2 separate regions of the Homo sapiens genome follow, and region 1 is linked to region 2. Evidence: fine-mapped expression QTL. A gene starts in region 2. The other region holds a variant in brackets. All regions are shown on one strand. Distances are between the middles of the regions.

Region 1 (16,780 bases), 26 kb after region 2:
CTCCAAGTTCCTGGCTTAGCCAACTAATGGATGGTGGTACTGTTTACTCAGAAGGATACCAGACAGGAAGGGACAGATTTAGGGAGGAAGATAAGTTTGGATTTTTGGCTTCTTGAATTTCAAGATGCTAGCCTAAAAGATAATGGGGGAAGATGTATTTGGAACTCAGAGATTTGAGCTGTGCTTGCAGAGCTTGGAGCCAAACCCTGGGAAAGACTTACGGGACATGCAGAGAAAGAGGAAATCCTTGTATGTAATACTAGACACAGCTCTTTTTAAGAAGTACAAGTAAAGCAGTTCTCACATTAAGTGACTAGGAATTTGTTGCCTTATGACAATGCAATTCAGGTATCTGAATTTCTATTCTTGAATTTGTGAAGTTATGCTTTCTAAGGTTTGTGCTCAAGGGACCTACCCAGTGAGCAAGCTCTGTTGGACTGTTTTTTTTTTTTTTTTTCTTTTCTTGGCAACCTACTGGAACAAAATATCACTCTCACAAATTATTATGCTAAAGAAACATCATTTGGCAAACATTTATTTAGTGCCAGCTCTGTCCAAATATGGCACTAGGCCCTGGGAATACAGAGATGAATAAGAAACAAAACCTGTCATTAAAAGCAAATACCCTACCAGGTTCACAGTACCTTTGTGCAACTGGCAGGTGCTATGAGGCTGCAGGTTGGAGGGACCCACTGAGAGGCACCTATGACCCATCCTGGGTGAGCTTGTCACAGGCACTTTCCTGGAGCTCTTTGCACCAGCAACACTCCTTGCCTGAATGCCTTCTCCCATGTCCCCCTCCTTGCCTAAGCCCTGTCAGTCCTTAGCGATTACACTCAAGTTCCATAGCAGGCATGGACTGCATTAAGAAATAAAATGTCTCTTCCAATAAGTAATTTTACACCTGATAACAGGAATGCTATCAATAGAGCATAGAAAATATATGTACAAATTTTATAATGCAAAAGGGAAAATTACTAGTGGTTTCTTTAAAAAGTTTAAAAAATTATTTCTACCTAGAGTCCATAAGATACAATTTTGGGTGGTAGCAGGATCTTATTAGCAGTATTTGTGTACAGAAACATTAAAGTTAGCAATTTGCAGTAAATGAATGTTTTGGCAGTGTTTCCAGATAAGGAAACAATGTAGATGCTGCTAGGTTTCCCTAAGGAAACAATGTAGATGCTGCTAGGTTTCCCCTAAGTGTGTTATGCACTGGTGCACATTGTTCTCTTCTTGTGGTCTGAGGTCAGTAATTTGGGTGATACCTTTTGGCTACACACAAAAAGACCCAACAGGTCTTGAGTGGTTACCTGCTGTGTGAATTTGACATCTGTCATCTCCTCTCATCCCCATGGCAACCCTGTGAGTTGGTAGGAAACTGAGGCATAGGAAATTCACATGGCAAGCACACGGCAGCGTCAGAGCCCCAAGCCCTTCCCCTCCACTGGGTTTTGAGAATTGGGATAGGAATTTTTTTTGAACCCATGTACCCTGCTTAGGCTCATAAAAGAAGATCTGTCTGGGAACAGTATTATTTAGTCATAGACTTCATTTGGCCACTGTTTCATTTAACAGACATTGTTCATTCAACAGCCACAAATCTTGTGAGCCAAACAATCATAAAAAGATAAGGTCAGTATAACATGGTAAATTCTAAGAAAAAAACCATGACAGTGCAAAAGAGGGAAGAACACTGAGGGCATATGGGGCTTACAGGGATGAGGCTGAGCCTGTGCAGGTGAAGAATGAGTGGAAGTTAGGGAGCAAACAGTGGCCAGTGTTGCATATTGGAGGAAGATCCTGAGCAAAGGTGGAGTGGAATGAAAGTGTACAGTGTGAGTTCCTGCAAGCAGTTGGATAGTGGAAGAACGCTTTCTCCAGGAGCGATCTGTCCGCCCACTGCAGCAGATCACAAGGGGTGCTTAAAATTCTCTAGTCCTCCACCCAGTACTGAATTAATGTTTCTTTGCATAAGGTCCAGAAACTTGCATTTGTTACAGACTTCTCAGGTTATTCTTGGGCACACTAAAATTTGGAAAGTGCATCGGGAGGATATGATAAGAAACAAAATTCCCAAGGTTTGGGAGCTGCATTTTCTGCTTTTGGCTTTGGGGAGTCTTCAAAGGCATTTGAGAAGGGAGCCATCTGCCTTTGAATGGATGGTCTGCCTGCTTCATGGAGAAAGAATTTAAGTGGGGCCAGGACCGGAGGCCTGGTCTGTGGAGGAGGTGATAAAAGACCCTGGTTGAGGGCAGGGTGGCAGAGACAAAAGGGATAAAATTAGCAGGACTTGATGGACTGCAAGTAGTGGGTTAGGAACAGAGGCAAGTCTGAGATGTTGTGTGGATGATACTCTAATACCCCTATTAAGGTTAATGAAAAAGGTTCATTCATTCCCAGTATATGGGTGATAAATTATTCAATTAGAAAATGTAGTGATTCATTCCCGGTATACGGCTGGTTGGGGAAATGGGGCGGGGGGCCAGTAAGGCTCCATCATTCATATGAAACAAGTACATATGAAACAAGTAATCTTTCTGGGTCTCTCTTTCTTATCAATGAAACGGGTGAGGAAGTGGAAAACTTGACCAGATTGTCACAGAAAACCTGAGTTTGGATCTCTACTCTTTTGTGAATTCCTCTCCTTTCGCCTGTTTTTGAACCTGACTTCACATAACAATACCAATGCTTCTTATAGAAATTATTCAGTTAGTAAATGTAGTGAGACAACATTGACATTTTACTTTTCCAACTCCAGATTTTTCCTCAATCAGAAGATGGTATAAAAGGGAAAATGTCATCCTGTATACTTCGGAACAAGATTATAGTTAGGACCCTCTAACCAAAATTAAAACCATTTTGAAGTAGCAGTAAACATTCCACGCACACAACTCACTTACCAGTTATTCTTGTTTATATCAGAAGTATTATCAATACTTACACACTTAGTACTGTGCTAGATGTGAATGGAGGAAAAAGCGTGGGCCTGACCCCCTCCGCCCCCCACAACGCACACACAAGCTTAGAGTCAATTAGAGAAAATGCATGTACATGGGAGGTAGTTAAAAAAATAACACGAAGCAATTCAGTCAGTCCCGTATTTGTTTATTAGTGCTCTGCCACATTCCATGAAGGTTTCATAGTTTATATAAACGTCAAAATGGCTAGTCTTCTAGGAATTAACAAAGGAGTGGATTGACTTGTTTATAAAGCAGTTCCAAAGACTTTTACTTGGCCTATAGCCTAGTGATATTTTGTTTTTGTTGTTTTTCATGGTACTGTGTGAATTTGACAGTAAAAGCATTTTGAAAAATTATTCTAACTCTTCGCTAGATCAGAGTAACTTTCAGCCCATTGTTGGAACTATGAAAATGTGATTCTAGAGTAAGTAGTCACTACTGTTTAATTCCGTAAGTGAAAACGAGGGCGAGAAGAACATATTGAAGGTTTTCTTTTCTTTTTTTCTTTAAACTTTTTAGTAATGAATCACTTTTGTGGTGTTAAAAGTTCAGCTACAAAACTTTATTGTTTAAAAGTTTTCTTTAAATTACAGTTGCTATATTTGTAACAGTTAAAGATGTGCCACTGTATTCAGCACCCAATGACAACATGTTAAAGATACTTCAAGGGAAATAGAAGGCATACACCAACAAAGGGAAAAAACAAAACAAGCCTCAGACAGGCACCCCGCTCCCCATAAACAGTGTCTATGTAAATATGCATATGTGGCTGTGGTTAAAAGAAAAACTTTAGCCAAATTTAACAGAGTTTAATTGAGCAAAGAACAATTCGCACATCAGGCAGCCACCCGAGCCAGAGTGGGTACAGAGATTCCAGTGCAGCTGTGTAGTTGAAGAAGGGTTATAGACAGAAGAAGGAAAGTGAGGTACAGAAACAGCTGATTGGCTACAGCTCGTCATTTGCCTTATTTGAACACGGCTCGAATCGTTGACCCCCTTTGATTGGCCCAAAACTCAGTGATTGACACAAGAGTAAGCTACAATCTGTATACAACTCCATTTAGGTTATAGTTCGTGGTGTGCAGAGAAACCTTTAGGCTGAATGTAAAATATGTAAGGAGGCAGCTTTAGGCTACACTTAACACCCTAAAGAAATACTGAATAATGAGAAAAAGGGAGAAATATTAGAAAGACGAGGTGAATAAAGAAGGTCCCGGTATGATTAGTGTGTCTGGTGCCAGGAAGAGTTGCTCTGGAATGACTTCGTAAAGAAGTTGGTCCTTCGGCAACATTTTAAAGGGAAGCTAAGGGAAGATTTGTTCACAGTGGATCGAAATTTTACCAGGTGGGAGAAGACCCCATCTAATGATGTACAGCCCGAGGAGAAAAAAACCCCCTCAAAGGCAGTAAAGGTCACCAGTGTTCATTATTTGTGGGCAGTGTCGTCTTCGTGGCTTTTTGTAATAGGTCTTAATTTTAGCTTCATAGCCTGTTTAATCTTCTCCTGATATTCTGGGTTGATGTTTCGTAATGGCTCCCATTGCCAGTAGTAGAACCTGAAAACAAGGATCTTTCATATGCACACAGGTCTCTCGTGCCTTCATTCTACCACCAGGAAAAACATCCAGAAAGGTAATAAATTTGTGGAGAACAGCAGTGGTATGACTACTCATATTTCTGAAAATGAATGCTGTTGTAGGAAAGTTAGGAAAGTGGTGGAGATATTAGCTACAGCCCTACTGTCAGATTTGTACCCTGTAGCTTCATCCTCTTTTGAAAAGTCTTACAACAAACCCACCTGGATTTTGCGTTGCAGTGCCGTCGAGTACAGCTGAGTCATGGCAAGAGAAGAGGACAATTAGATAAGGGGTGCCTGACTATTAAAGGATCTGAAAAGCACTAACCAGGGTATTATGCAACACACAAGTGGAAACCGTTTCAGAGTGCCGAGGAAGTTATTAACAGGAGCAAAACAACATGTGAGGAGAGTGATTTTAGCTACAGTGCTCAAGGTAGATTGCAAGCAGCAGAAGTTGGGGATGAGATCATAAAGGACATGAATAAATGCATCTAGGCAATAAAGAACTGCACCCTTGAAATTTGTAAAGGAAAACCCATCTTGTATACAACAACCAGCTGTATACAAGGGAGTTAACGTTCTAAGGATGTGAGTACAATTAGCTAAGAGCATAAGTGGCACCATAAAGGCTGATGGAGACATTATGGGGAGAAAGATAGTGAATCTGATGTGTGGACATTCAAGGTGATAGATAAAAAGATAACATGAGTTTCAAGTAAGAACAGTACTTTGAAGCCTTGAGCACTTAGCAGCTTCCCGAGGATATGAATACATCAAAATTGGAGATTGGCACTGGCATTTATAACAGCAATTATTAGGAAAGTGAGTAGAGGGGGCTGGAATAGAGAAATCTCTAAAGAAGAGGCAGAGATGATGACCTGTGTGTGGAAAGAAGCAGAGAATTATTTTTGTGCTACTATTAAGACAAAATGCTAGACAAGGTTCAATTGTTGTTATAAATGTAATTTCTCTATATAATTTCATCATCTAAAATCAAATTAGCAAGTACTTTTTATTTAAGGGGTAATAAGAGTAGTCATCACACTATCTAGATAGCCACACACTATCAAAGCTTTAACTCTTCATGTTGACTCTGACTACGTTTATATAAAAGAATGAAATTCACATCTATAACTTTCTTTGCCTTAGAAAAGGCATTTTCCAGTTTTTATTAGTTGTGTGCAAAATGGAGCAAAAGAATGAGCACATGGCTGACATGAAGATATTTGTCTTACCAGTTAAGCAGTGTGAAAACTTTGCAATGACTAATTTCAGGCCCCAAATGCAGTGGTCTGGGGCTGTACCTCTGGGAGGACATTACTAGGCATTTTAACTGCATGGAGTCGGTAGGGCAAAGAACAGTGAGTGAGTTAAGAGTCCCGCGAAGCACACTTGGATGCAGCTTGAGAACAAGAGCAAGGGGAGCTGAGGGTCTGTTTTGTGTTATGTTCTGTGGTACCATCTGTATCTTTATGTTCCTTGGTCCCTGCTGGAACTTGTCACATGTTTACTCTGTTTGACGTCCCTCTCTGGTTTGTAATAGAGAATCTACATAGTCTCCAAAGCTGGTCGGGAGTGCAGTCCAGCTGCAAATCTTTGGTGATGGCAAGTCCCTGCTTGAGAGGACTCCTTGCCCGTCGGAGTCTGATCAACCCTGCTCCTGCAAAGAAACAGCCAGGTGTTGGGTGTGTTTGATGAAGTACAAGAGTCTCTGTTGGGCAGTCTGATTTTTCTGTTAAGAAAATACTAGTTATATGAATGTTCTGCTGTAGTCCACCAGCAGTTTTTTTTACTGTTCATCAAACATGAAAATATGTAAAGATAAAAATATTTTTACTAAATGATGAACAAATGAGTCAAAATATAAAATTGTTTATGTCCTGAACTCTTCAGGTATCAATTTCTCCTGCAAAATCATAGCTTGCATTGGCTTATGCCTTATACTTTCTGTCTATACGTGGACTTCGAGTTAGCCAGAGATGTAAAAGTTTTAAGTTTTCAAGCCATGGAGGTTAAGAAGGGATTTCTTGGATATATTTATTAGCTTGATTTAATAATTCTGCAGTGTATCCATATATCAAAGCATCACGTTATACGCTATAAATATATACAATATTTATTTGTCAATTATATCTTAAGTTGAGAAAGGGAAGAGGGATTTCTTGGTAGAAAAAAATGAAATTTTTAGGCAAGCTGATATATTTGCAGGCCCTGAATCAAGCAGCTATAAAGACCTTTAAGAATTTAAAATAGGCTTTGCATAACTGGATTTTCTCATGACATTTTGAAGAACTTTTTTCCTTTGAGTTTTCTGTTCCTCCTTTCCCCATTCATTGCATCACTATGATTAATATGATATTCTGCTCACTTAAATTCTAAATAACTTTTAGAAGCCTGAATAAATACTGAACTAGTGAACTTTAAAGCCAGATAGAGTTGCTATAAAATATTTTTCCCAATAGTTAAGCATAAATCTAAAGCAAGTTAGGATCATTTTTAATGAGAACTAACTTTGGGTTTGTACCCAGAATAAAATGTTTGCTTATACCACTCTGGGAAAGAAAGCGATAATTATGAATAGGTCATTTTTAGATGTCAGTGGCTTACTTTATGCTTATTAGTATATACTATATAGCTAATAAAAATAACTCTGTTTTCTATACCTTGCACGGGACCCAGCACAGTTACCAAGACATTATAGGCACTCCAAATACTTGGTTTTGATTTATCTCCTTTGAGTTAATATTCTTCCTTGGAGATTTAGAATAGGCAGTATTAGGCTAAGATTTAATCGGGTTTCTGATAGTTCATCTATTAGCCCAATACTCCGTGTGTGTGTGTGTGTGTGTGTGTGTCCTTACTGAGATTGCTACATACCAGGTTGTTCCCTTTCGTGGAAATGGTGATTATTCGTAACTGAAAGTCCTTTGTGGTTAGTGATAGTGATTTCACAGGACTCGGGTAAAACACACACGCAACGCCTGAGTGGTTTGAGCTAAAACCAATGAGTTGCAGTTTTGGAGGTTTTCTTGACTCATGACCTGGGGACTGTACCCACTCCTTGAACAGGTTTCAGATCAAGGCCTAGGAGCAAGAACCCGAGAGACCCATCTGCAGGCAAGCTGCAAGAGAATATCCTGCTTTTCCTCAGGATACTAGCCCTGCCCTCTGTTTAGGGCCAAGAATGCCAGAAAGACTCTGGGACCTTATTAAACTGAGCTGAGGGGGGAGATTTTATTCAAGTGTTGTCTATGAGATCTGTTAAGCCTTAGATTTCTTACCCAGAAAATGGGATGATTTGGTACTCAGCTCACAGGAGTTTAGGAGAATTAAATGAGATCAAGTATATGTGAGTGCCCTTGGCACAGTGAGTAGCACTTAGTAGGTGCTAAATAAACTGTTACAGCCAACAATTGTTAAATATTTTCATGCCAAGTATTGTGAAAAGACAGTGTTCGTCCTCAGAGTGTTCTGGGCTGAGAAATTGAGAAAGCCAGCGTATAATATATGAGGTGATGAGAGCTGTGATATAGCAAAGAACTATATGTACACACATATAGAACTATATACACACACACACATATAGTCACATGGGTGACTATATCATCAATGTATACATGAGCCCAGCAGAGGGTCCCTAATCACTTAGAGGAACCAAGAGACCTTCTAGAGACTTGAGTCTTGAGCAGGGCCTGAAGGAAACCAGTAGGAGTTTCTAGAAATAGAAAGGGGAGAAAAGCTTTCCAAGCAGAGGGACCTGCAAGGGCAAAAGCATGGAGGATTAGGAGCTCTCATTTGTTTCTTCCCTGCTAAAGTGCTATTGTCATTCAAACTTATGTAGGTCCAGGGCACAGAGAAGCAGCATGTGTGGTTAGTGGTAAAGCACACACTCTGTGCCACCAGACAGTCGTTTAGACCCTGGCCCTGCCAATGCTGTGAGTTGGGCAGATGGCCTAACTGTTCCACGTCTCAGGCTCCCTCATCAGCAAAATGGGAAAAGAACAGCAATAGCTACTCAGAGGACCATTGTGAAAATTTAAAGAGTCAATAAATTTAAAGTAGAAAGTGGACACTAAATATTTCATGTTAGAGTAAATGTTGTGATCATTTGAACCAGCATTTTCCAAATGCCTGCTCTGTGTAAAGCAAGTACACATTTTGGTGCCTTGGGAGAAACCAAAATGAAAAAGATACGGACTCTATCCTTCAGGAAATTTATAACCAAGAGACAGATGAATATGTAAACAACTAGCAATGCAGCTTGAAGTTAAATAATAGCTACGTGGAGGTTCAGACAATGTGTGGGAGCATCACCAAAAAAGAAATTTGTTCTGAGGAAGAGGAAGAATTCTTGTGAGAAGAGAGATTGTTGTAGAATTTGTGCCTAGTGCTCATTTTGACTTGCTTTGTCTTGGTAGTACGTGAATCAGGACAGGGACATCCGGGCCTGCTTTTGGCCCTGTTTCCTCACCGTGGCC[GACTTTGTCT/T]TGGCTTGTCTCTGGTCTACCTGGACAGTGTTCAAATGCTTCACTTAGAAATGAAGCTCGAGAGGTGAATAAGGTAGGTTTGATTTATCAGTTTTATTACTCAGCTGCTTGAGAGAAGTGCAGAAAGAGCAGGAGCTGAGGGCAGGTGGCACGTGGGGAACTTTATCTTCAATGAGAAGAAATCAGGCTACAGAGAAGTCCCCAGGCCCTAGCTGTAGAGCACATTCACATAATTGCCCTTGTGGCCATTCATGCTCCTGCCTCCCACATTCAGAGGAGTTCCCTCAGGTGTGCAGGATTTTCCCCCACCACCAGCCCCCAAGGACAGACCAGAGTGACGCCTGCATTGTGTTTTGGAAGTCGGGGCTGAGATGAAGGCAGCCCTTTCCTGCAGTGAAGGGGGACCCTGGTCTGCGCTCTACAAAAGAGACACCCCATGCCCAACCTAGGGGCTGCTGGCTCTTGAGTGGGAGGTTGGTGTCAATTGGCCCCCGGTGTCTTTGTCTTCCAAAAGTTGGGTCCAGACTATCCTATTTTTGCCAGAAATATCTCACAGGCAGTGGTCCAAGCCTGGCATAGTCTCATAGTTTCAGCTCTGATAAAGTGCCCTCCCCTCTTTATGGTCAGTCTGGTCCTGGAAGGAGAAGTGGTAAGTCAACTCTAATTCAGTTATGGTTGCCAGAAATCAAAGAAGTGAATGTGAGCTGCATCACCAAGTATTACAGAAGGCAGAAAAGGCAAAGCATGCCTATAAAATCTTTAACATGACAGCCTGGTTTTTACTCAGAGAAATTTAGGGAATTATTTTGAAATATTTCTGCATGATGGGGTAGTGGTTCGTTCAGCTGTGCAACTTGAGATCTTGGTTCTGTCACTTTAAGTGGCCTTGAGCAACCGGTTTCACCTCTCCAAGCCTTAGTTTCCCCATCTGTAAAATGGGCATGATAGTTAGTGGCACCTCCTCACAGGGTTAGAATGAGTGCTTAATGAATTGGTGTGTGTTAAGTGTTTGGAACGGTGCCCAACGCTAGTAAACTCTGTGCAGGTGGAGCTCTTACTCTTATGGGGTCACATCAAGAGATTTTTGGTGAATTTGTTTTCCTGCTGCCACACTGGGCCTATCCAAGGATATAATAGTGTCTTTGAGGCATTATCCAAGGCTTTTGTGAAATACAGGTCATAATATATATTTTTTCAGTTACTAGATTAGTAGTAGAAGTTCATTGGCTCTCAGGTCTCTGAGAAAGATAGCTGTACAGGTTCCTACCCAAATTCTGGAAAAGAGTAAATTATTTTCTCCTAATACTTTGCATACAAATATGAGGAAGAATCCCAGCCTGTGGTTTGTATGACCACACCTCTGTTTGACGTTCCCAAAGGCTGCTCTAGGGTGTGTGCAAACTGTGGCTATAAAGACAGATTTCTTTGATGGAGGCTTCCTTTTTAAAACTCAGACCAGCCTGATTCACCCCTGCCTGCCATCTGCTATGAAGTTTAAACAGCTTTGAGCTGAACACCTGTGTCTTTGTCTTGCTTTTTGCCTTGCTAAACAGGACTTGATTGGATTTCCCTTTTCAACACAATTGCCCACCTACACATCTACATTTCTGTGTTGCTACCTCATATGGCTTTGATCAACCTGTTCAGAAGAAATAGCCAGAATTTAAAGTATGAGAAAATAACATTAAAGTTAGGTAGGAAATTCTCCTTACACTACTTTTCTGTTTGTTTGTTTTTTAACAGCAGTGTGAAACGTCTGTGTTAAGATTATTAAAATATCTTCATTTTACCCGTTTGTAAGTGTGTCTGTTTAGGCTTTAAGGAAATAACTGAAGCCATTCTTTTCCCCCATATGCAGCTGGGTAACTTGTAATCTGCAAAATGGCATCAGAAGAATTAGGTAAAACACAGGAAACACAGGGAGCTAGAAGTCAGTGACCACAGACCCCTCCGCAGTGTGTATTAGTGGCAGTTCATGGAAGACCTAGACCAAGCCCCTTGCTTATTGGCCGTTTGATGTCGCTTCCTTGAGTAGACACTGCTGGGTATTCAGGGGGTTCCAAGTGAGCATGGAATAATGCCAGCGCTCAAGTGGCATATTAGTTAGTAGTGGAACATTCCACATCACTGTGATACAAGGTGGAGAGTAAGTGCCATGTGGGAATCAGTTGTGTTTTTCAGAACGTTTTTTTCTGTTTAATTTTTTATTATTATTATACTTTTAAGTTCTAGGGTACATGTGCACAACGTGCAGGTTTGTTACATATGTATACATGTGCCATGTTGGTGTGCTGCACCCATTAACTCGTCATTTACATTAAGTATATCTCCTAATGCTATCCCTGCCCCCTCCCCCACCCCACGACAGGCCCTGGGGTGTGATGTTCCCCACTCTGTGTACAAGTGTTCTCATTGTTCAATTCCCACCTATGAATGAGAACATGTGGTGTTTGGTTTTCTGTCCTTGCGATAGTTTGCTGAGAATGATGGTTTCCAGCTTCATCCATGTCCCTACAAAGGACATGAACTCATCCTTTCTTATGGCTGCATAGTATTCCATGGTGTATATGTGCCACATTTTCTTAATCCAGTCTATCATTGATGGACATTTGGGTTGGTTCCAAGTCTTTGCTATTGTAAATAGTGCCACAGTGACATTTGCGTTGGTTCCAAGTCTTTGCTATTGTCAATAGTACCACAGTAAACATACTTGTGCATGTGTCTTTATAACAGCATGATTTATAATCCTTTGGGTATATACCCAGTAATGGGATGGCTGGGTCAAATGGTATTTCTAGTTCTAGATCCTTGAGGAATCGCCACACCGACTTCCACAATGGTTGAACTAGTTTACAGTCCCACCAACAGTGTAAAAGTGTTCCTATGTCTCCACATCCTCTCCAGCACCTGTTGTTTCCTGACTTTTTAATGATCGCCATTCTAACTGGTGTGAGATGGTATCTCATTGTGGTTTTCATTTGCATTTCTCTGATGGCCAGTGATGATGAGCATTTTTTCATGTGTCTGTTGGCTGCATAAATGTCTTCTTTTGAGAAGTGTCTGTTCATATCCCCACTTTTTGATAAGGTTGTTTGATTTTTTCTTGTAAATTTGTTTAAGTTCTTTGTAGATTCTGGATATTAGCCCTTTGTCAAATGGGTAGATTGTAAAAATTTTCTCCCATTCTGTAGGTTGCCTAGTCACTCTGATGGTAGTTTCTTTTGCTGTGCAGAAGTTCTTTAGCTTAATTAGATCCCATTTGTCAATTTTGGCTTTTGTTGCCATTGCTTTTGGTGTTTTAGTCATGAAGTCCTTGCCCATGCCTATGTCCTGAATGGTATTGCCTAGGTTTTCTTCTAGGGTTTTTATGGTTTTAGGTCTAACATGTAAGTCTTTAATCCATCTTGAATTAATTTTTGTATAAGGTGTAAGGACGGGATCCAGTTTCAGCTTTCTGCATATGCCTAGCCAGTTTTTCCAGCATCATTTATTAAATAGGGAATTTTTTCCCCATTTCTTGTTTTTGTCAGGTTTGTCAAAGATCAGATGGTTGTAGATGTGTGGTATTATTTCTGAGGGCTCTGTTCTGTTCCATTGGTCTATATCTCTGTTTTGGTACCAGTACCATGCTGTTTTGGTTACTGTAGCTTGGTAGTATAGTTTGAAGTCAGGTAGCGTGATGCCTCCAGCTTTGTTCTTTTGGTTTAGGATTGTCTTGGCAATGTGGGGTCTTTTTTGGTTCCATATGAACTTTAAAGTAGTTTTTTCCAATTCTGTGAAGAAAGTCATTGGTAGCTTGATGGGGATGGCATTGAATCTATAAATTACCTTGGGCAGTATAGCCATTTTCACAACATTGATTCTTCCTATCGGTGAGCATGGAATGTTCTTCCATTTGTTTGTGTCCTCTTTTATTTTGTTGAGCAGTGGTTTGTAGTTCTTCTTGAAGAGGTCCTTCACATCCCTTGTAAGTTGGATTCCTAGGTATTTTATTCTCTTTGTAGCAATTGTGAATGGGAGTTCACTCATGATTTGGCTCTCTGTCTGTTATTGTGTATAGGAATGCTTGTGATTTTTGCCATTGATTTTTTATCCTGAGACTTTGCTGAAGTTGCTTATCAGCTTAAGGAGATTTTGGGCTGAGATGATGGGGTTTTCTAAATATACAATCATGTCATCTGCAAACAGGGATAATTTGACTTCCTCTTTTCCTTTATTTCTTTCTCTTGCCTGATTGTCCTGGCCAGAACTTCCAACACTCTGTTGAATAGGAGTGATGAGAGAGGGCATCCCTGTCTTGTGCCAGTTTTCAGAGGGAATGCTTCCAGTTTTTGCCCATTCAGTATGATATTGGCTGTGAATTTTAGACCAATATCCCTGATGAACATCGATGCAAAAATCCTCAATAAAATACTGGCAAACCAAATCCAGCAGCACATCAAAAAGCTTATCCACCACGATCAAGTTGGCTTTATCCCTGGGATGCAAGGCTGGTTCAGCATATGCAAATCAACAAATGTCATCCATCACATAAACAGAACCAAAGACAAAAACCACATGATTATCTCAATAGATGCAGAAAAGGCCTTCAACAAGATTCAGCAGCCCTTCATGCTAAAAACTCTCAATAAACTAGGTATTGATGGGACGTATCTCAAAATAATAAGAGCTATTTCAGAACATTTTAAGTGCTAAGTAATGTTCGTAAGGGCAAAAGGCTTATCCATGCGGCAGCATCAGGAAAGGTCATGGGGAAAGGGGAGTTAGAATTGGATCTTGAACCATGACAAGGATTTAGGCAGGTAGAAATGGGGAGAGAGTGTGCTAAGTAGAGCAAAGAGGATGAGAAAAGGGCACCAATACAGGTGCTGGGGGCACCAGCAGCACTGTGGGAACACCAGTTCTTAGTGTGCTACTGCAGGGTTATGTTTATTGCACATTTTTCATTTAAATACCTTTAGAATTGTCTCTGCTTATTTTTCAGTCAAAGCATTAATCACCATTATTAATATGTTAGCCCGTCTGTTCTCGCTAAGGTGGTGTTACCTTTCTCTGAAGAAGGTCATGCTGTAGCTAGTGGTGTCAGTGGGTTGGACGCAGGCATTGCCAGACTGCAATGGTGTTAAGCCACAGTAGCCATTTCCTATTAATCACGTAAAGAAATGAAAATCAAATCTGACTGGACTGTTGCTCCATTTTCTCAAAACAGGAAGGTTTCTATAGAAAACGTCCTTTCCCGTTACTGAAGGTTGCCTGGTTTACAAGGTCCTGTGGTTTTAGTACAGATGTGTTTCCTTGGACTAGTTTGCTTGTATCTTTCAGAGTTTATGCTGCAGCTTCCCCACTCCCTTCACAGATGGGTGAGCCCATATTGGCCCAGCACTAAACTCTTAGGTAAAGTCTTCACTCCATGCACAAAAGAAGGGCATAGTTTGAGTGTCATTTTTAAGGCCAAGTCAGCTCTCTACATACTTAAAATATCTACAAGCTTTTACCTGAAATGTGCAAACAAAAGGTTATTCAAATAACTGAAGACTGTTACAGTTACATAAGTCTGTGGTTTCACACCTTCTGTTTATTTAGTATTAGGTTGGTGCAAAAGTAATTGCTATTTTTGCGCCAACCTAATTAATTGCAAAAACTGCAGTTACTTTTGCACCAACCTTGGTATTTACCAAAGATGACATGCATTCATCTCTCTTGAGAAATTGTCCATGGGCTTAACTCTGTGTTTCACCTTCCTAGTAAAGCATTTCCTTGACTATTCCTGTGCTCCTTAACTATCCTTTCCTTCTCCCTCTTGCGTTTTCTTGTCTTCTGCCCACATTTGCCATTCCTGCCCAACCCCATTTTCTTACTCTTCCCACCTCCCCACTTATAGACTGTGATCCTCTGTCCTTCTGGATGTCTGGCTCTACTTTCCCCATTTTCACCCCAAAGTCGTTCATCAATCTAGTTCATTTACTGGATGTTAATTGAGAGCTTACTCCTTGCTGATGACATGCATGCTGTTGAAGAAATGGGTTTTCAGAGGCAGCCCTTGGGTGAGACAAATAAGTACACAGCCAATTGCAAGGCATAAGTGCTGGTGCAGCTGAAATTCTGCTGCAGAGGGTGGCAGAGGCTTAGCAACCCACGGAGGATGGGAAGATGAAACCTGTCCTCGCCAAAGCCCCTCCTGGGGCTGCTTTTCCACCCGCCTCCATCTGCCCTCTTCTCCATGGCATTCAGTACAGACCTCTGTTTTGGTGTAATACTTATTAGACAATATTGTACTGAGTCCAGCCAGTTCTCTTTAATAATTGTATACCTTGCAGATAGAACACATCCAATAAATTGTGACTTCCCTGGAGTTAATTTTCTTTGCAGTAAAGCGAGACTGGTGACTTAGAATTGTTGTCAAGGGTTTTCTAGCTGAAAAAAAAAAATATTGTCAGCTAAAACAAGTACATATTTGTATTGAAAACGACATAGATGTTTTCTCTTTAGTTTGTGATTATAGGGACATAGTTTGAAAGTGAATTTCTTCAATAAGATTAATTTCCAAAAAAAAAGTTATTTTGTTTCATTTTTGCTGGTTTTGAATGCAACTGTTTGTTACCAGTGCCAAAACAGTGGATGTGAATGAAATGTATAGTCAGACGGAAATTTCACGTCACTGAGTGGAATTTCACCCTTCTTTAAAAGTCTCCGCTTTCTGCCTTAAAAAAAAAAAAAAGAAACTAGACTAATTGTTAAATTGTATGTGCAAACTAATGCAATTTAGTGACCTTCTCAAAAATCATTTTGAAGTGATTTCAAGAATTCTAAGAAAAAGATCTAGGCTGTTTCTAAATTTAGTAGCCCATGATTTTTAAAGATTTCAACCCTAGGTCCTTGGGGCTCATAACAATCAGTAGATAACCTTTTTTCCTTAACATTACAAGAAAAAATGTAATTTTTAACTCACAGTAATTTTTTTTTTTTTTGAGACAGAGTCTCGCTCTGTTGCCCAGTCCGGAGTGCAATCTTGGCTCACTGCAACCTCTGCCTCCCAGGTTCACGCGATTCTCGTGTCTCCGCCTCCCAAGTAGCTGTGTTTACAGGCACGCATCACCATGGCTAATTTTTGTATTTTTAGTAGAGACAGGGTTTCACCATGTTGGCCAGGCTGGTCTCAAACTACTGACCTCAGGTGATCCACCCGCCTCAGCCTCCCAAAGTGCTGGGATTACAGGTGTGAGCAACTGTGCCCAGCCAACTTGCAGTAATTCTTATTAAACCATATCTAATGCATGCAAGAGCTCCAAAAGCATTACTGGGTTTTCTCCACCACAAGTGGCTGTTTCAGCTCTTGAGAGTTGTAAATTAAAAGTAGCTCCCTGTTAGCCTAGGGTTCTATCTCCTACATAGACTCTTGTCATTACAGGTGTTGTGTGAGTCTTCAAAAGCCTGCCTTGATTATTTTTTCCATTTTATTTTCCATTTTCTTGGGAAATGATTGTGTTTTATAAGCTTAATTCAGTTTGGCAAATATTTTTCACTTACTGTTTGGGCAAGCCCTGGAAGGCACTTTAGGAAGATCAAACATACACACCATTTAACTAACCATCAATGTAAGAAAGACTGTACCAAGTAAAAATTTTAAAGCCAGATTATTTTATTTCTGCTTTCATGAATTTCCAGTGTAATGGAGAAGATAAGAGAAATAAGTAAGCATGTATCTGGCCAATTACTTATATGTTTTATAGAGTTACAGACATAATTATAAA
Region 2 (16,780 bases):
AGTGCCTCTTCCACTTTGTGTCCATTCCCATATGTTCATCCACATGTCTCTAGCCTAGACCTCCATGTTTTCAGTCTTCCAATCCTTCTCTGTCCAGCCTCTGACCAGGCAACGCTGTTAGCCACTGCTCAGAAATCTATATAAATATTCCCACCTGGGGCCACTTTCCCTTCCACACAAAATACATGACTGGTTCAACATTCACAGTTCTGCCCACTGGAAAGATTTTCCCGGTCTACAGATGTTCAAGACCACTCCTGAGTGTAGATGTAATGCAGCCTCCATTCATTTTCAGCTACATCCACATACTGAGCTCATCCAACCGTAAACCAGATAAAGGTTTTTCCTCCCCCTTCAGCTAGTTATCTGAAACCCCAATCTGCTCAGAGAAGTGAACCAGTGGAACCCAGGTGGGGGACATGAGGGTCTGTCCCACACAGCCCTCAAGAAAAGGCAACCTGTTCTTGCAGCTTTTCATGCCCTCTGGTCCCCCTCAGCTTGCTCCTGGGGATCCCAGTCCCAACTCACAATAGATTGCTTCTGGGTCTGTCAAGACTTGAGTCAAGAGGACTCAAGCTCATAATGGGAAATTCTGAATGAACAGGCACTTTTTCCCATGGTCAAGCACTCCTTTACTACCAAGGCCAAGTAACTTTCAAGTAAACTGTTTCTCAAAAGATGTAAGATTGCCTGTTGCAGATGATATAGATCCTTGCTTTAGATCCCCATAGACTTGCAACTGTGATTCTTCCACAGGGGCTTGCCATAATCTTCATATATCTTTTCTCACCACTGATACCTCCAACACCATAGGATCTGCCTGATCATATGGCCCAAGAGGCAGGGCTGCTTGCATCACAACCTGAGCCTCTAGAAAAACCCCTTCCTGGTCTGAGCCCTCTCAAAGCTGGTGGCCTCCCTTCTGTGTCACCTAGCACATAAGCTGAAGTAGTGTCTAAGTGTGTATGTGTTGCTTCCAGAACCAAAGAGTAGGCCTACCAGGTGTTCTGCTTCCTTTTTGTAGCAGAGGATGCAAGATGCATCAATTTACCCTTAACTTGGAGGGGTTGTCAGGGGCAGTGGCCTTGATGCAAAACCCACAGGAGATGTGAAGTTGTGGCAGCTGGAGTCTCTTTGCCAAGTACCCTCCAAACTGTAGGTTCTCTTGAAGGCAGATCTGAGCAGTGAGCCTCCACAGCCACTCTTTGGGTGTTCTGATGTCTCTGTAAGCTTTAAAAAGTGCTTGCCACATGAAAATGATGTAAAATGCAAGAGATGACAAAAATGCTAGAGTGGGATGAAGGAAAGGAAGAGGAATTTAAGCTTTATTTGGAATGCAATCAGTATCTGAAGAATGGCCTACAAGGGCTTTGAGGTGTGCATGCTGAGCTGATATGCAGATTGGTACTGCAACTCTTGGCAAAGATACCACATCCCCCCTTGTCATTCAGTTAGAGGAAAGCCTCTTCTATTATTGGCTATTGTTTCAAATCCCATTCCTGAGCTCTTGGAACCATTCACTCCTCAATTATAATTTACATTTCTTTTACTGTCTAATAATTGATTGCGTTTTTCTTTCCTTCAGCTATGAGTCATTTAGTAGCTACTTACTCCTTTGCTTTCAACAATATTGTGTACCTCCCTTCTTTATGCAACTGCTTTATGAAAAGGTTATCTCATCAATTTTTACAACTTTTAACAACATCTCAATACTGACACTCTTCAAAATGCTTTTAGATTCCCTTGCTATCTCCAAGTCGTGCAATTTCAAATACTGAGTTGCCTTTCAGTCATAGTTTCAGAACAAAGCGTTGTGATTTTAAATGTAGGATGAGAGATGAACTCATCGCCATGTCTCCTCGGATGCCTGGGATTTCTTTTTCAGGAAGTCTCTTCTGTTCTTACAATCACAGATTGAAAGAGAGACTTGAAAGAGTGGTAAACCTTCATTCCCTTCATTCCTTCCCTTGGTAGGGTGCCTCTTAATTCAAGAAGATCATTGCATTATAAATATCTAGAAGGGTATGCCTTTACTATATCCATAAAGTTAAACAACATGCCAATGATTACTGAAAATTGTTTCAACCATAGCAATCCATTAAATCACTCTGTCCTCTGAACTCTTACGATACTTGGCACTTATTGGCTACTTGTAGTTATCTCCCTTGTATTTTTATTATTTTTCTTTTTCATCTCCTGTCTCTTTAGAGATATTTTATATCCTTAAGTGCAAAGGCTGAGCCTTACTTCTCTATGTCTCCATACCTAAGACAGTAACCATGTACACATATATAAGATGAATAAACATATGCACACATATACATACATATACGTACACATTTTGTGGTTTGGTTCAGGCACTACACCTCTAATACAGACCTGCAATCCACTCTGTCTTCAAGTTACCACTCTTTCAAGTCTCCCTTTCATCTGAGGTTACCTTTTTTATTGTTAGAACTTTCCTGAAACCCTCTGTGAGCCTCATCATTAGACATGGATGGTGTCCAGGTCTATGTGGAGCTTTCCCCATTAGGAAGAGGAGGCAGAGGGCCACAAGGGACGCATCATGAGAAGAAACCAAAGCATTGCCCTTGAAAGTTAAATAGGCTCAGCTGGTGTTTTTAGATCAGAATTAGACTATTTCTAAATCAGACTCTTGGCTTCTAGGGCAGGATTGCCTAGTTATACAAGATAAGCCAACAAATATCCAGCAATTATACAAAATTCTGGTACCATAAGGCTAATAGTTGGAAAACAACAGATAGCATAAAGTTAAGGAGACTAGAAAGGGATAAGAAGATGAAAAATACACAGAGAATGACACAGCTGAAGTGGTGGGAGATGAAGAGGGAGAAGAGAAGCACAAATATGGGCATCATAGAAGCCAAGGAGATGAGTGTCCCCAAGTATAAAATTCACTGCTGCCACTAGCAGGATAGGAACTGAAGATATGCCATCATATCTGTCAAACAGAAGGTCCCTAATGGCTAGAAAAGCTTCACTAGACCGGTGAGAACAGAATCCAAATCAAGTAGTACGTAAATTGGAGGCAGGGACATAAAGACCAGAATACACTCTTTCAAGATCTGCAGTTTCAAGAAAAGACATAGAGGACTTAAGGAGATGGTAGACCAGCAAATTAGGACTGTTTTAATATGGAAAACACAAGAGCTTGTTTGTTGGCTGAAAGAGAAGAAATTAAAACATATTTAAAAGAGAGAAGGTTTGGAGGCCAAGACGCGTGGATTGCTTGAGGTCAGGAGTTCGAGACCAGCCTGGCCAACATGGTGAAACCCCGTCTCTACTAAAAATACAAAAATTAGCCAGTTGTGGTGGCACACACCTATCATTCCAGCTACTCAGGAGACTGAGGCAGGAGAATTGCTTGATCCCATGAGGCAGAGGTTGCGGTGAGCCAAGACTGCACCACTCCACTCCAGCCTGGGCAACAGAGCGAGACTCCATCTCAAAAAAGAGAGAAAGAGAAAGACAGAGAGAGAGAGAAGGAACTGACCCAGAACTTGGGGAGGAAAAAGGCTATCTTTTCCTCTTGGAGGCAGGTGAATGGGAAGAGGAAGAAAATGGGAACCTGTGTAAAGTTTTTGAAGAGAGGAAAGGTGCAAGTGTTCCTAGCTCCTTCTTCCTCTGTGAGACAGAAGACAGTGTCCTCTGCTCAGCAGGAGAAAGCTGCAGTGGAGATGGGCTCCAGGATGGTGATAAATATCAGGAATCTGCCTGGGAAAAGTTGTGCTATGTAGCATGGAGGACTTTGAGGAGAACCAACGGAGTGTTCAGTGAGAGTGGCAATGAGGGAACGCCGTCAGAGTGGAATTGTAAAATCCCAGTTTGCAATTTTCAGCTGGACCTATACTCTCAAATTCCAGAGAGTTGGCCTTACTGGACCTTACTTGCTGGATCAAAGTCAAGTCCAGGCTATGTCCGAGGCCCGAGTGAATAGTGGAAGTCTCAGAAGGGGATGTTACTGAACAACGGCTGTCAGAGGAAGAAGAAAAATGGGCATTATTTACTTATCAACCTACTTATTTTTAATTTTTGACCTCTCCTACTGAATTGCCTACTGATCATCTCTGGGGTATACTTCTGGATCATTGTCTCCTAAATAAATATATCTTCTGCAGCCCCCATAATTTACTCTCCTTCCTCCTTTAAAAAAAAAAAAATCTAGACAGCAACATTATCATTCACCCAGGCAGCTAATCTAAAAAAATAAGAAATAAAAGTCATCTTTACTGCACCTTGTTGTTCTCCGCCGAGCATTTGAAAGCTCTCAATGTGTTCTCATCCTCTCTCCAATCAAGGACAGGAATAAAGAACCTCCTCTAAAGTCACACAGACCTGGGTTTGAATCCCACCTCAACCATTTCTACCTTGAATAATTCTGTACCTATGAATGTGCTAAACCTTATTTTCTCCTTCTGTGAAATGGTTGTACGACTAGTACAAATCATCTACAACTATGAGATTTAAATGAATTCATACCTGTAAAAAAAGCTTAGTATGGTATCTGTCATACAGTAGTTGCCATAAAAGACTTGAAGACCATTAATTTTGGAATTCTCTTCCTCTTCTGATTTCACACTGCCTGCAAAGTTTCTGACCATATTTCTTAATTTTTATATTTATCACGGACAAATTTCTTGAGTTTGTAAATTCTTTATTGCAAATATTCAAATTTTGATTATTTGATTGTATAAATCAAGATGGTAACACTTTTTGACTTATATATCAAGTGATTTTAATTGTATGTGTTTTTCTACACACTTTGAATCATGGTTTTTAGACAATAAACACCTACAGATTAGCTTTTTGTCATTTGTAAATTTTTTATTAAAAACTCTCAATAATCAGTCGGGGTTTTTTTGTTTTTTTGTTTTTTCTTTTAGAGATGGGGTCTTCCTATTTTGCCCAGGCTAGTCTCAAACTCTTGGGCTTAAATGATCCTCCCGCCTCAGCCTCCCAAAGTGCTGGGATTACAGGCATGAGCCACCTTGTCCAGCCAATAATTAATCTACTATGTAAATAAAATGAAGTCACCAATAAATTTTTAAATACACCTTCATTTTTTGAAAGACATCATTAAATTCCAGCAAAACATCCTTACTAATATGTTGTTAACTGGTCATAGTCACACTCAAAATAGCTTACAATATGTTATAAAATTTTTTAGAATGGAAATATATAATAACTAGGTTTTTAACATGGAGGAAAACAAACTATAGGGTAGTTGCTGGCCCCTGGATTTTCATGGCCTCCCCCGTTCCACCTGTCAAACCAACATTCACATTCTCTTCTTACTAATCCCTTCTTAAAGCTAAATTCAACTCCCCCTTATCCAGGGCAAAGGTTCAGAGGGAGAGGGAAAATAAGGACATTACTAACCCTGACTATTAAACTGCAACATTATTCCACTGTCTACTATCTGCTATGCCATCACTCTCAGCATCTCTTCCTCTTCCTAGTATTCTCTCCCCGTCTTCTCCAACCGTTACCATTGACCCTGAACACTTACACTAACACATATGTCTTCGTGACTGGGTAAACATTCCATTGTGATGGCAGCTGGTAAATGGAAGCATGGTTTATATGGTTATTTGCCAAAAATTGTTTAGTAATTTACCAAAAATACCAACTTTCTTTCATAAAGAAAGTCAACATCAGAGCTAGGCTAGGATTAAGATTAGTTAAAATTTAATCATACATACCTAGTGGTAAAGTCTCACTTTTAATTAAGGTTCTTTGCAAGGCATCTATTAGGGATAGCCACAGGAAAAGAGTAAGCAATAAATGGCCATGTCTTTTTTCCTCCCCAAATCTTCATATTCAATCCAGATGTGTGTGCACCTCCCACCACAAATAGACTAGATATCCATTACAGAAGCCAGAAACTTGGTTTGTGCTCTGTGTTCCAGAAAATCCCTCATTTGCATGACAACTAATTAGGAAGAGTAATAAATAAAGAGATAAAGGTTTCCAAAATTTATCCCCTTAAAGAACATATATGGGTCCTAACACACTGGGTGGATCCAAAAAAAAAAAAAAGGCAAAGGGACAAAGACTACTCTATGAGGAAGTCTAGTTTAGAAAGAGACTCCCCCATTCAAAATATTGGCTTGAGCAACCACACTTTTTCTCATATCATACAGAACCTCAAAATATATGGGAATGCATCTTTCTACATTAGCTCCTGATTCTGGTGTATCCCATAACAGGGAAATGGAATTATGGCTCAGCCGCAAAGCCCTGGCCCTCATCTTCCCAGCGGCCTAAATCAATCCCCAGTCCAGGACAAGATGCTTCGAGAGATGCATAATTATTTCAGGCCACTAGGGTAAGCACTATTCCTGGCAACTCTGCGGGCAGTGCCATGGATGAGGGCTTCTAATTCTCTTTGGTGATTTGGTTCTGCATAAACTGAGATTTTTCTTTCAGTCTTTCAGCCAGATAAGTAGGAAAGGTCGGCTCTCGTCCTGAGAGAGAGGCAATCAAGGTCAATTTCAGTTCCTTTTCTGTGCAGTTTAGTCTACTTTTTCCCAGGCTGTCTTCCTGACACCTGTCCTTATATCTATATCTGATTATCAAATACTTAGTGAGAGAACCTTTGGCAGCTTCTGATGCTCGCATAGTCACCCAAAGGCCTCTCAGCCTAAGAAATAGCAGGAATACACTCCAAATCAGTTTCCTTGAGAGGCCAAACTAAGACCCTAGGCTGTGAAAGTGGGAGAAGTTTCTCCCGTGGGTATTTTGAGGGTGAGGTGGAGAATAATGCTTTCTCTCACCAGAGGCAATGCTGATCCAACTTGCCTATTACCAAATCTCTAATTTTTGGTTTGGCACTGCAGCCACAATATACTCAGTTATTACCGAATATAGAAAGAGAAAGGCAAATCTTGTTAGTCCCATTCAGAAGATGGTGAAATGGAGGTTTAAAAGTTTAGAAGAGTTGCCTAAAGTGAATTCGACAAAGCAGTGTTGTAGCTAGAAAGTAGACCAGCTGACATCTGTCCCTGGTTTTGTAGGTCACAGTTTCTTTGCAAGTTTAGAGCAGTGCTTTACTTACCATATTCCTCCTTGCAAACCTCTATTTACTTTCTTAAACAGTGGATACCAGTGGAGAGGTGTGCATTCCAGACACTTATACAATGTACACAGACCGAGCCGTCTACCTGTTGGGCACACAGCTCCAGGCTCAAGAATCTCTAAGGCTGTTAAGAAGCACAAACGAGGCACGAGAGGGGGCAGGCTCTAATGTAAAAGGAATATCCTGTACCACTGCAAAGGCCGATTGAAAACATCCTCTTCATCACTATTAATAAAAAACTAACCAATATATTCTGTGCTTTTTCAAACTGTACTGCTCACCCTCAGTGTCTTCATTAAATAAATGCAAACACGTGTGCTTTGAAACGGGTAGGTGTAAAAGAACACTCTGCACAATTATATCTAGGCTGCCGCAGATTTACATCACATGCATACATATATCTAGGCGATATTAATTCACGATGACAGCTGAGCATGACAAATGCAACAGTACACAAGTTGGAATGCGAAAACAATGCAACTACAAACCCCATGCAGACAAACACGCATACAATGAGTTTTCCCTCAACACACACGTGGCCGCACTCACAGGAGCTTAACCACTTTGAAAAACCCCAAACACAAACACCGGGGGCTCCGGCGCCCGCGAGCGGCCCCCACACAGGCAGCCGCGCCTTCATCTCCAGGCAGGGATTCTCGTGCGTCCCCGGGTACACTCGCCCTCCCACCGGCATCCCACTGCGCGAACACATGCGCGCCAGCCGGTCCCCGCGCGCGCCCGCCTGCCGAGGAAGCGGCGGCTCCCGGGGCTGGGGGCAGGGCCCGGTGGGGCGGGAGCGCCGCGGGGCCGGGCCTCGGCGCCCGGGGAGGGGACGAGGGGCGGGCGCGGGGCGGTGCCCGGCTCACGTGGGCGGGCGGGAGCAGCTGAAGGTCCGCTCGGGAACCTGGGCTGTCCTCTCGCGCGCGGCGCTGGCCCAGGCGGCGGCGGCGAAGGAGGAGGAGGAGGAGGAGGAAGGCGGCGGTGGCGGCGGCAAAAGAGGAGGGAGGACGGGGGCGGCGTCGGACTGGAGCCGAGCGGCAGCGCGAGCTGCCCAGGGCGCTGTCGTGAGCTCGCCCGCCGGGCCCCCACCCCCGAGCTACACCCTGCCGTGCCCAGCACTGCCCGCGTCCGTGCCCCTGCGGGGAGCGCGCCGGGGCTGCCCCCCGAATGACGGGCGGAAGGTTCGACTTCGACGATGGCGGCACCTACTGCGGCGGCTGGGAGGAGGGCAAGGCGCACGGGCATGGCATCTGCACGGGGCCCAAGGGCCAGGGCGAGTACTCGGGCTCCTGGTCGCACGGCTTCGAGGTGGTCGGAGGCTACACCTGGCCCAGCGGCAACACCTACCAGGGCTACTGGGCGCAGGGCAAGCGGCACGGGCTGGGGGTGGAGACGAAGGGCAAGTGGATGTACCGGGGGGAGTGGTCACATGGTTTCAAGGGGCGCTACGGGGTCCGGCAGAGCCTGTGCACCCCCGCTCGCTACGAGGGTACCTGGAGTAACGGGCTGCAAGACGGGTACGGCGTGGAGACCTACGGGGACGGAGGTGAGCGGCGTAACGGGCGGCTCGGCTGCTCCGCGAGCTGGTGCGGTGGGCTCTGCCCCGGCTGCGGGGAAGCGGGGAGGACGCCGGGCGCACGTGTCCGGAAACCCGCCAAAACACCTGGGGGCGCCTCCCACCCCCGCGCCCGCGCCCGCCTTTCCCAGAGAGGGCGCTGGGACCGGACTGGGGCGCGAGGGCTGGATCTGACCCCGTTCTTGGAGCGGGCCGTGTATCCACACTCAGGGGAGCTAGGCGTGAATGTACCTGGCCGGCGCCAGCGCTGCGCTGCCACCGGGAGGGAGCGCCGCCCGGGAGGGTTGGGCTGGAGAGAGGACGCTGTCACTTGAGCCCGTCACATTACGTTCCTGATCCCTCCCTCTCCCGGCCGGGTTTGAAATCGCCACTCCCGTGGAGTTAGAGCGAACACCCTGAGCGGGTGAGGTTGGCGGTCCGTGCTGACCGCTCCCGGGATTGGTTTCACGTGGAGTCGTATTTCGCTTCTGGTCCTCCAGTAGCCTAAAGATAGAAGCCAGAACCCCGTAACTAGGATGTTGGGGAATTGTACCTTATTTGGGGGTGCATTTGGAAACGTCCTAGTTATGGGAGCAGAAAGGCCACCTGATGCAGGTGGAGTTCAGAGTGTGTGAGTTCCTAGTTTTCATTCCGTTTCTTAAAGTATTGGTCTTAAAAGAGTAGCAGTCTTTGCTGACCTGGAGATCTTGGACAAATTACTAGGAAGATATTTTAGAAATGGGTAATGAAGTCTACATTTTAAAGAATACAATTAGCAGGTGTGTTCCTATAGCTGCTAAGTTAGCAGCTACTACTCCTGAGAATGGCAATACTGAAACAATAATTTGCATTATGTGTGACCTAAGCCAGTATTCCTGGCTGTGAACAAAGATCACCTTATTTTAATATTTAACAATATTTGCCAAAGAGATTGTGTATATACCAGGACAGAAGTTCCTCTTTTATTAGGAAAAGTATACATTATTGAAACAGGTGTCAAAACCTGATGAATTTCCTTGTGTAATACGCTGAGAAAGATATTCATGAATAGCTTATGCTTTAGCAAAGTGCATTTCCTGATAAACATAATCATATTTAGTTGAAAAGGGTTGTAGGAGGCGACATCACTTTTTGGAATTAAGCAGCTCAGAGTTGGAGGATATTAAAGGGATGCAATTAAAAGTTTCTCCAGCCCACTGCAACCCCATTTATACCATTGCTTATATAAAAGCTTACACAATTTGTACACTTCACTTAGTCAGAACACTTGGGCCGTGTTTCAAATGCAAAATGGCAGAATGGTAGAACTTGCTAAAAAGGACATCTTTTCATCCTACAGTATAAATTAAGCATATGGTTCTCATGGATTAAAAGAAAAAAACGTTCTCTAATAGTTTTATGTGGGGCTGAGTCCCGAGTTTCACAGTAGTTAATTGGGACCCTTAAATGTTCTGAATGGGCATAAAGTACCTGGTTGACAGCGCTGTAAATATGTCAGTTTGTGACTGGATTTTGTTGGAGGCCCCAGCTCTACTATATAACTAAATTCCATGCTCAAAAGTAGAAGGCAAAATTTATTGTTTTAAATGTGTGCATTATTTTATAATCTTTTAAGAAGGCCAGGGATGGTTCTCTTCAGTTTTGGAAGGTTAAAAATCGTCTCCTTTTAAAGATACTATTCATTAAACACACTCTCTTGGTTTAGAGTATTCATTATACCTAGTAATCAAAATATATATAGCACAGTAGAGGCTGTCTGTGTACATGTCGTAGAAACCCAAATAAGTCTCCAGAATGATTTTATGAATAATCTGCCTTCAGTTTTAAAATAAACTTAAAAAAAAACTTAAAACTTGGCATCATCCTGGGTGGTACTGTGGTTTTCTTCTTCTACCAAAAAAAAAAATCTAATATGCTACAGTTAGGAAGAAAAACCTTAAAAATCACTACTGAATGTCTACTCTATGCTAATAGATTTTCTACTGTCTCATATGTAACTATTTCATTAGAAAGTTCTCAATCATAAAAAGGGAGTCTAAAGCAAGTTTATTGCTGTAACTTATTTCATACAAAGGTTTTGGCCAAAATAGGAATATCACTAAAAAATTAGCTTGTTTTCTGCTGTTCTCACTAAGGAGTTAGCTTGTTTTTGTTTGCACTCTCCCCATCGCCACATGTCCATCCCTGTACACCCTGTATCAGATTCAGGGAAAATCTGATTCCGAGTTTTTTTGTGGTGACATTAAACTGGAGGAGGAAGGAAGCAGTAATTCCATGTGAGACGTATCACTTATTTTATTAGTGATTTGTGTATTACATGTTGCTGAAATAGAAACCCCCTGAATATTAACAATAAGTTAGTATCATACTCATGAAATCCAAGTCTAGGTGCCCAGAATTTTTTGTGCTAATTCTGATCTGTACTTTGTTTTTTCACTTGTCATAAAACTATTGAAAATATCTGGGAAAACACAACGTTTTGTTAACTAGATGCATACTTGCACATACCCATTCGGAGCATATAAACTGAAGTTTGGCATAGTGCAGTGCAAATTTGACTGAAACTCCTAAACTGGATGCCTTCCACTACAAGATTGTGTAGTTAAAATGACTAAATCTAAAAAATTAGCTCCCAAATGAACACAGTTTAAAACTGGTAAAAGTAATTTTTATACTTGTGAAATATGCATCTACATTTTAGGAATCAAGAGGAACTAATTAGAACTTTATTTGAGCAGCAGGGAGAAGTTGGAACCCACCTGCTTCATAAAGAAATAGGCCCTTTCTTATTCTAGGTTCATTGACTAAACTAAACCTATTTTAAATTTCAGATGAACTGCTAACAGTTTGACTGCAAATTGGTTTCTAGCAATTCTGTGGAGGAATTCTTTCATATACTGTGATTTAACAAAATAGGAGAGGAATGTGGCCAATGCTCTTGTCCCCCCCTTCCCTATTTGACAGTTAAGCAGAGACTTAAACTTTCTAATTATTGCTGTTGCCTTAAACAGCTTGGATTTTCAAGCCATACTTTTTTGGAAATTCTAAATACTGTACTAGTCTTATTTTTGGAGATAACAGTTTAAAGAAACTAGCTGTTAATTTTCCATCAGTGTTAAACATTTACCAAGATGGTATGGCTGTGTTTTAAAAGTGCAGATACTTATTGATATCAAACAGCATCTCTGCAAATTGTTCTAGCAAAATTAACTTGTCACTATAGACAAAAGTTAGGAGGATGTGATTATAGCATTCTTTTAACCAACAAAATATTAAAAATAAGGTGGTTTATTTTAGTATCTTCAAGCCAGATTGTGAAACTTTCATCCTAGAATTTAAATTTTACCTGTATAGGCAAAGGAAAAGTCAAAGTCAAAATTTCCTAATAATTCCATTCCCATTCCTGTTAAGATGGCGGTATTTGGAGATGGCCAGTATTCAATAGGAAGCTTCTTAGCCTGAAATGTTTTACATGACTATCTTATCCTCTTGAGTTAATCTTTCAGAGAAAACTGTGGGCCACCCACCTCCTCAGAAGTTCATAGATGTCAAGTTAAGACTTCACATCTACCCAGAATATGACATTTACAGTACCAGACCCACTTAGTATTTCATTGTATATCTACTATTGCCTGTGTCACATATGCCAGAATGAACAAAAAGAGAAGGTAGTCTTGAAATTGGTCAAAACCGTTGACTTGGGAGTCATTATGGTTTTAACTTTTAAGTGCAATGAAATAACCAGCCATTGTTAACACAGTTATATAAAACCACTAGCATTTTTGCCCGGTGTTTTGAAAATGAATATGTGCCATGCAATGGAAATCTGTGCATGGAAATATAAAATGCAAAGTGACTGCAGGGTAGATCTATATAATCAGAAATGGAAAGAGGTCAAGACAGACTAATCATTATTTGTTTTCTATGACATTGTGAATTGTTATGAATAACACAGAAGTAATTACATTTTAAATTTTCCAGATAGCTTCTTTTGAGGGATACTGTAAATTAAAATTTACCCTTAATTAAAGGAAATTGATTTTGAAAAGAAACTTCTAAATTCCCTAATTTAACATTCATTTCCTCCTAAGATTATTTTAAAACCTGTACCAGGTTATTTTTTAATGTCTTTGCTTATTTATTTAGTAGCAAAAAATTCACTACAAATGCTCTAGATGACAGACTATCATGAAAAAGCATAATATTTGTTGACAGAGTCATCTGGTATCAACATTTTAATAGATAGTGTCAAATATACCTTTCCTCTGAGATGAAGTCCAAAATGGTAACAGTAGAAGATTTCATCTGGCCTTACATCAGTTTCTCCAAGAGTAAAGGGTATACTTTTTAGCCACCATAGCTTTTTACCGTCAACATAGTCATCAAACACCCTCCATCCACAAACACAGACCAGAGGACACATGAGAATTTTGTGTTCTCATACGAAGTAATTCCTGCCCTCAGGGTGCTTCTAGTCTGTGGTGTGATTCACAATGCAGTGGCAGCTAGGGAAATCCATAGAGGATGCAGAGATTTGGCAAATGATACGGCACAAAGCTTTGGCCTTTTCACTTAGAAGCACAAAAATGTTAAATTACTCATTTTTTTCATAATTCACTGTATTCATAATATATATTGTGGTTGTCGATTCTCTCTTAGCTCAAAAAGGTTCACCCAAATTCAAATGATAATCCTGAATATTCAACAGTTTTGTCTACACTAAAAAAAGAGATGCTGAATGTAGCAGAAAATTTAAGACGTTCATTTGATGACTGTGTCCCAAGTATTCCGATTTAAGCCTGTATACTTCTTGGAATGTTATACTGACATAGACCTAAAAGTCATTTTTTACAGTTTTCCAGCTAAATTAGTAATATTAGAATAAAATTTACACATAGAATTCATTTCATCTTCTACTGTTTCCTTGTCTTCTTCCCAAGAGGAATTTTTGATGCATTAATTTCAGAGGAGAATGTTGTTTCCCAGTGTTCACTTTTTGTATTAGAAAGTAGTGGTTTTCCTCTGAAATACTTGCATAAAATTTTAATGAAAAGCAAAAATTATCTGACTACTAGAAAATTCTGTGCAATGACATTAAAGCCTTACACCCAAAATTACAGGGCGGGGATTCACAAGTGGATGCAAAGTATCCCCCAGGGTTGACTTGGAAATGGGTCAGATTTGACCTTGGGCAGGCCTGCGCCAGTGTGCGCTGGATGGTGCAGGTGACGGTGCAGCTCTGCCCCCGACTCACGGTGCTTTCTTGCGGTCTCTCCAAGGTACCTACCAGGGCCAGTGGGCCGGAGGCATGCGGCATGGCTACGGCGTGCGCCAGAGCGTGCCCTACGGCATGGCCACGGTGATCCGCTCACCGCTGCGTACCTCGCTGGCCTCGCTGCGCAGCGAGCAGAGCAATGGCAGCGTGCTCCACGACGCCGCAGCCGCCGCCGACAGCCCGGCCGGCACCCGCGGCGGTTTCGTGCTCAACTTCCACGCAGACGCTGAGCTAGCGGGCAAGAAGAAGGGCGGCCTCTTCCGGAGGGGCTCCCTTCTTGGAAGCATGAAACTTCGCAAGTCCGAATCCAAGTCTTCCATCTCGAGCAAGCGCAGCTCTGTCCGCAGCGACGCGGCCATGAGCAGAATTAGTTCCAGCGATGCCAACTCCACGATCAGCTTTGGCGATGTAGATTGTGATTTTTGCCCGGTGGAAGACCACGTGGACGCCACCACCACGGAAACCTACATGGGCGAGTGGAAGAACGACAAGCGCAACGGCTTCGGCGTTAGCGAGCGCTCCAATGGCATGAAGTATGAAGGGGAGTGGGCAAATAACAAGAGGCATGGATATGGCTGTACCGTGTTTCCTGACGGCTCCAAAGAAGAGGGAAAATACAAAAATAATATTCTGGTCCGTGGGATAAGGAAGCAGCTTATACCAATAAGACATACAAAAACTAGGGAGAAGGTGGACAGAGCAATTGAAGGCGCCCAAAGGGCAGCTGCCATGGCCAGAACCAAAGTGGAAATAGCAAATTCAAGGTAAGTAAATGCAGGGTGGTTGGTTTTGCTGGGTTGGTCAGAACAATGGAGTATCAAATATTATGTTTGTCTATCTGCCAGTGACATCGCTAAATGCTTTCTACAACTACTAAAAAATCAAAGGTGAAAAATGATTACACTCAGTAGAATCAAAGTCAGAAATGTACCTGCACTGTTCTGAAACTTCCCATCATCAAAAAATGTCGAAGGCACTTTGAGCTCCCCTTCCTGTTCTAAATTACTTCCCTCATATTTAACAGCGTGAGGGAGTTCACTGAGACCCTGTGCTCATCTTCCTGAGCCCGGAAAGTTGCTGTTTTCTTTTCTTTTTTTTGTAAGAAGGACCTCTGAAATGCTGCCATAGCAAGCATTGTGTTTTGTGTACCAAAAGAAAATAGCAATCCACGTAGAAACATACTTAGTATAGATGTGTACCTTTATTCTGATATTTACATCGGAGGTATGTACACTTAGCCTAGCTTATACAATTCAGATTCTGTTTATGAAGTCTTATAGGTAAAATTGGTTTTGAGACAGCCACCAAAATCTACATATGGCAAAAGTGGAAAATAACATGACAAAATCTGGCATGCATTGTTAAAAACAACAGCTACATGGGAAAGGCAAAGAGACCTACAAGAATCGCCACATTCTATGCAGAAGAGATTAGGTCACTGGTGTATTAAAAGGAAAGGGGTGGAGGGAACCTGACAACCTGACATGGACAGATGGGACTCTCAATGTGCCAAGGTTGGAAGAAAGAAGAGCAGTAGAGAAGGGCTGGAGTGAGTAGGAGAAAACCGGTGAATAATAGATTGACAAGTGGGGTGTATGTGTGGGCACAGAAGGACTACGTGCTTGAAGTTTTACCATTAATAGCTGGTTTCAGGGATCCAGCAAGAGGGATGGAAAAATCTATTGGGAATAAAGTTCTATTAGGGAAGGATATCATAGGTGAGACAAAAAGAAAAAGGTGTGGTAATAAATGGAAAATTTTATTTTTAGTCTTATTTAAGTGAGTACTGACTAGCCACAGCTTTGTAAGACTTGAAGCATAAATGTAGCATAGAATATTAAAAATCCTGTTTCTGCTTCAATAACACTCTTCCACAGAAGTAAACGCCCTTTTGAAACCACAAAATGTTAGCATGTCTTCAGGTTTTTGTTATTGGCATTGAATTAATGAACCTCCCTTTTTTTTGATGGAGCCATATGAAATTTCCAATGTTCAAATTTTTTAATGTACAAAAAAAAATGGTGACATCATATGGTTCAACTTAGTACTTCTAGAGTTCTTTTTTTTTTAATTCCTCTACTTAAAAAATAAGTAGGGCTACCACTAAATAAGGTTGCATATTTTGCATTACTTTTAGATATATATTATATTATATATTAAAAGTCTTCAAGGTTTTCATCTTTATCCCAAACTAATTTCATTTCAAAGCTATTATTTTTTGTTGATCAGCACAAACTTTAATGAAGGGTCTCTCTCTCTCCTGTCTTCTCTACCAGGCATCTTTTACTTCAGATCACAGTTTTGGATCTACTTTGCTTTTCAGTTTGCTTATAGATCAGATACTCAGCACATCTAATCTTGCTGGCTTACTTTTAGACCTAGTGATAAACATTTGTTAGGCCTTGACCTCTAATTTTAAATGCACACTTGGATTCTTCCATGTTTTCTTGTTACAACTTAGTGACATGCTAAAGTCAGCTCAGTCTTGGGAGGTGAAAAATGAACCTGTGCAGAACACTTTAACAAACGACTTATCATTAGTTTCCATTGGAGGAGTTTGTATAACAGAAAGCGACTGGCAATGCAGAGATGATCTCTGATTATGCTAGTATCATAAAACCCTCACCCAAGTCCTAGCCATGTTCTCTCTGTTGCAAGTCTTTTGGGGGTAGTATTATTTCATTTGGGAATACTGTATTATATAGTTATAATCAAGAGATCTTTAGTTTAAGACCTTATACTTTTAGCCAGTTAGTTACTTCATAGTTACTTAGCTATGTTTAAAATGCTTAATTCATTATGCAAATGAAAGAAGTCAGTCACAGAAAAACAAATACTGCATGATCTCACT

Alleles and levels. Alleles are on the strand shown, and positions count from the first base shown. SD is a standard deviation of normalised expression in the study named.
With allele T in place of GACTTTGTCT in region 1, the expression in esophagus mucosa of the gene that starts at base 8,014 in region 2 is lower (small effect, 0.37 SD a copy in GTEx).

Evidence for each region.
Region 1: its variant is fine-mapped to the expression of JPH1 in esophagus mucosa (GTEx, PIP 0.95).

Annotation. Positions count from the first base shown.
Region 1 is chr8:74,286,637-74,303,416 of GRCh38, reverse strand. The region is part of intron 2 of JPH1 (junctophilin 1); the gene reads left to right. Among named protein-coding and RNA genes, the nearest start is that of JPH1, 27 kb to the left of the region's middle. RefSeq lists an enhancer at 1,848-2,349 and a silencer at 7,520-7,659. The variant GACTTTGTCT/T (reference allele first, on the strand shown) is at 9,021.
Region 2 is chr8:74,312,774-74,329,553 of GRCh38, reverse strand. JPH1 (junctophilin 1) reads left to right here and starts at 8,014. Exons shown (of 6, transcript NM_020647.4): 1 at 8,014-8,645; 2 at 13,934-14,693. The coding sequence starts at 8,267. RefSeq lists a silencer at 7,864-7,963 and an enhancer at 8,057-8,947.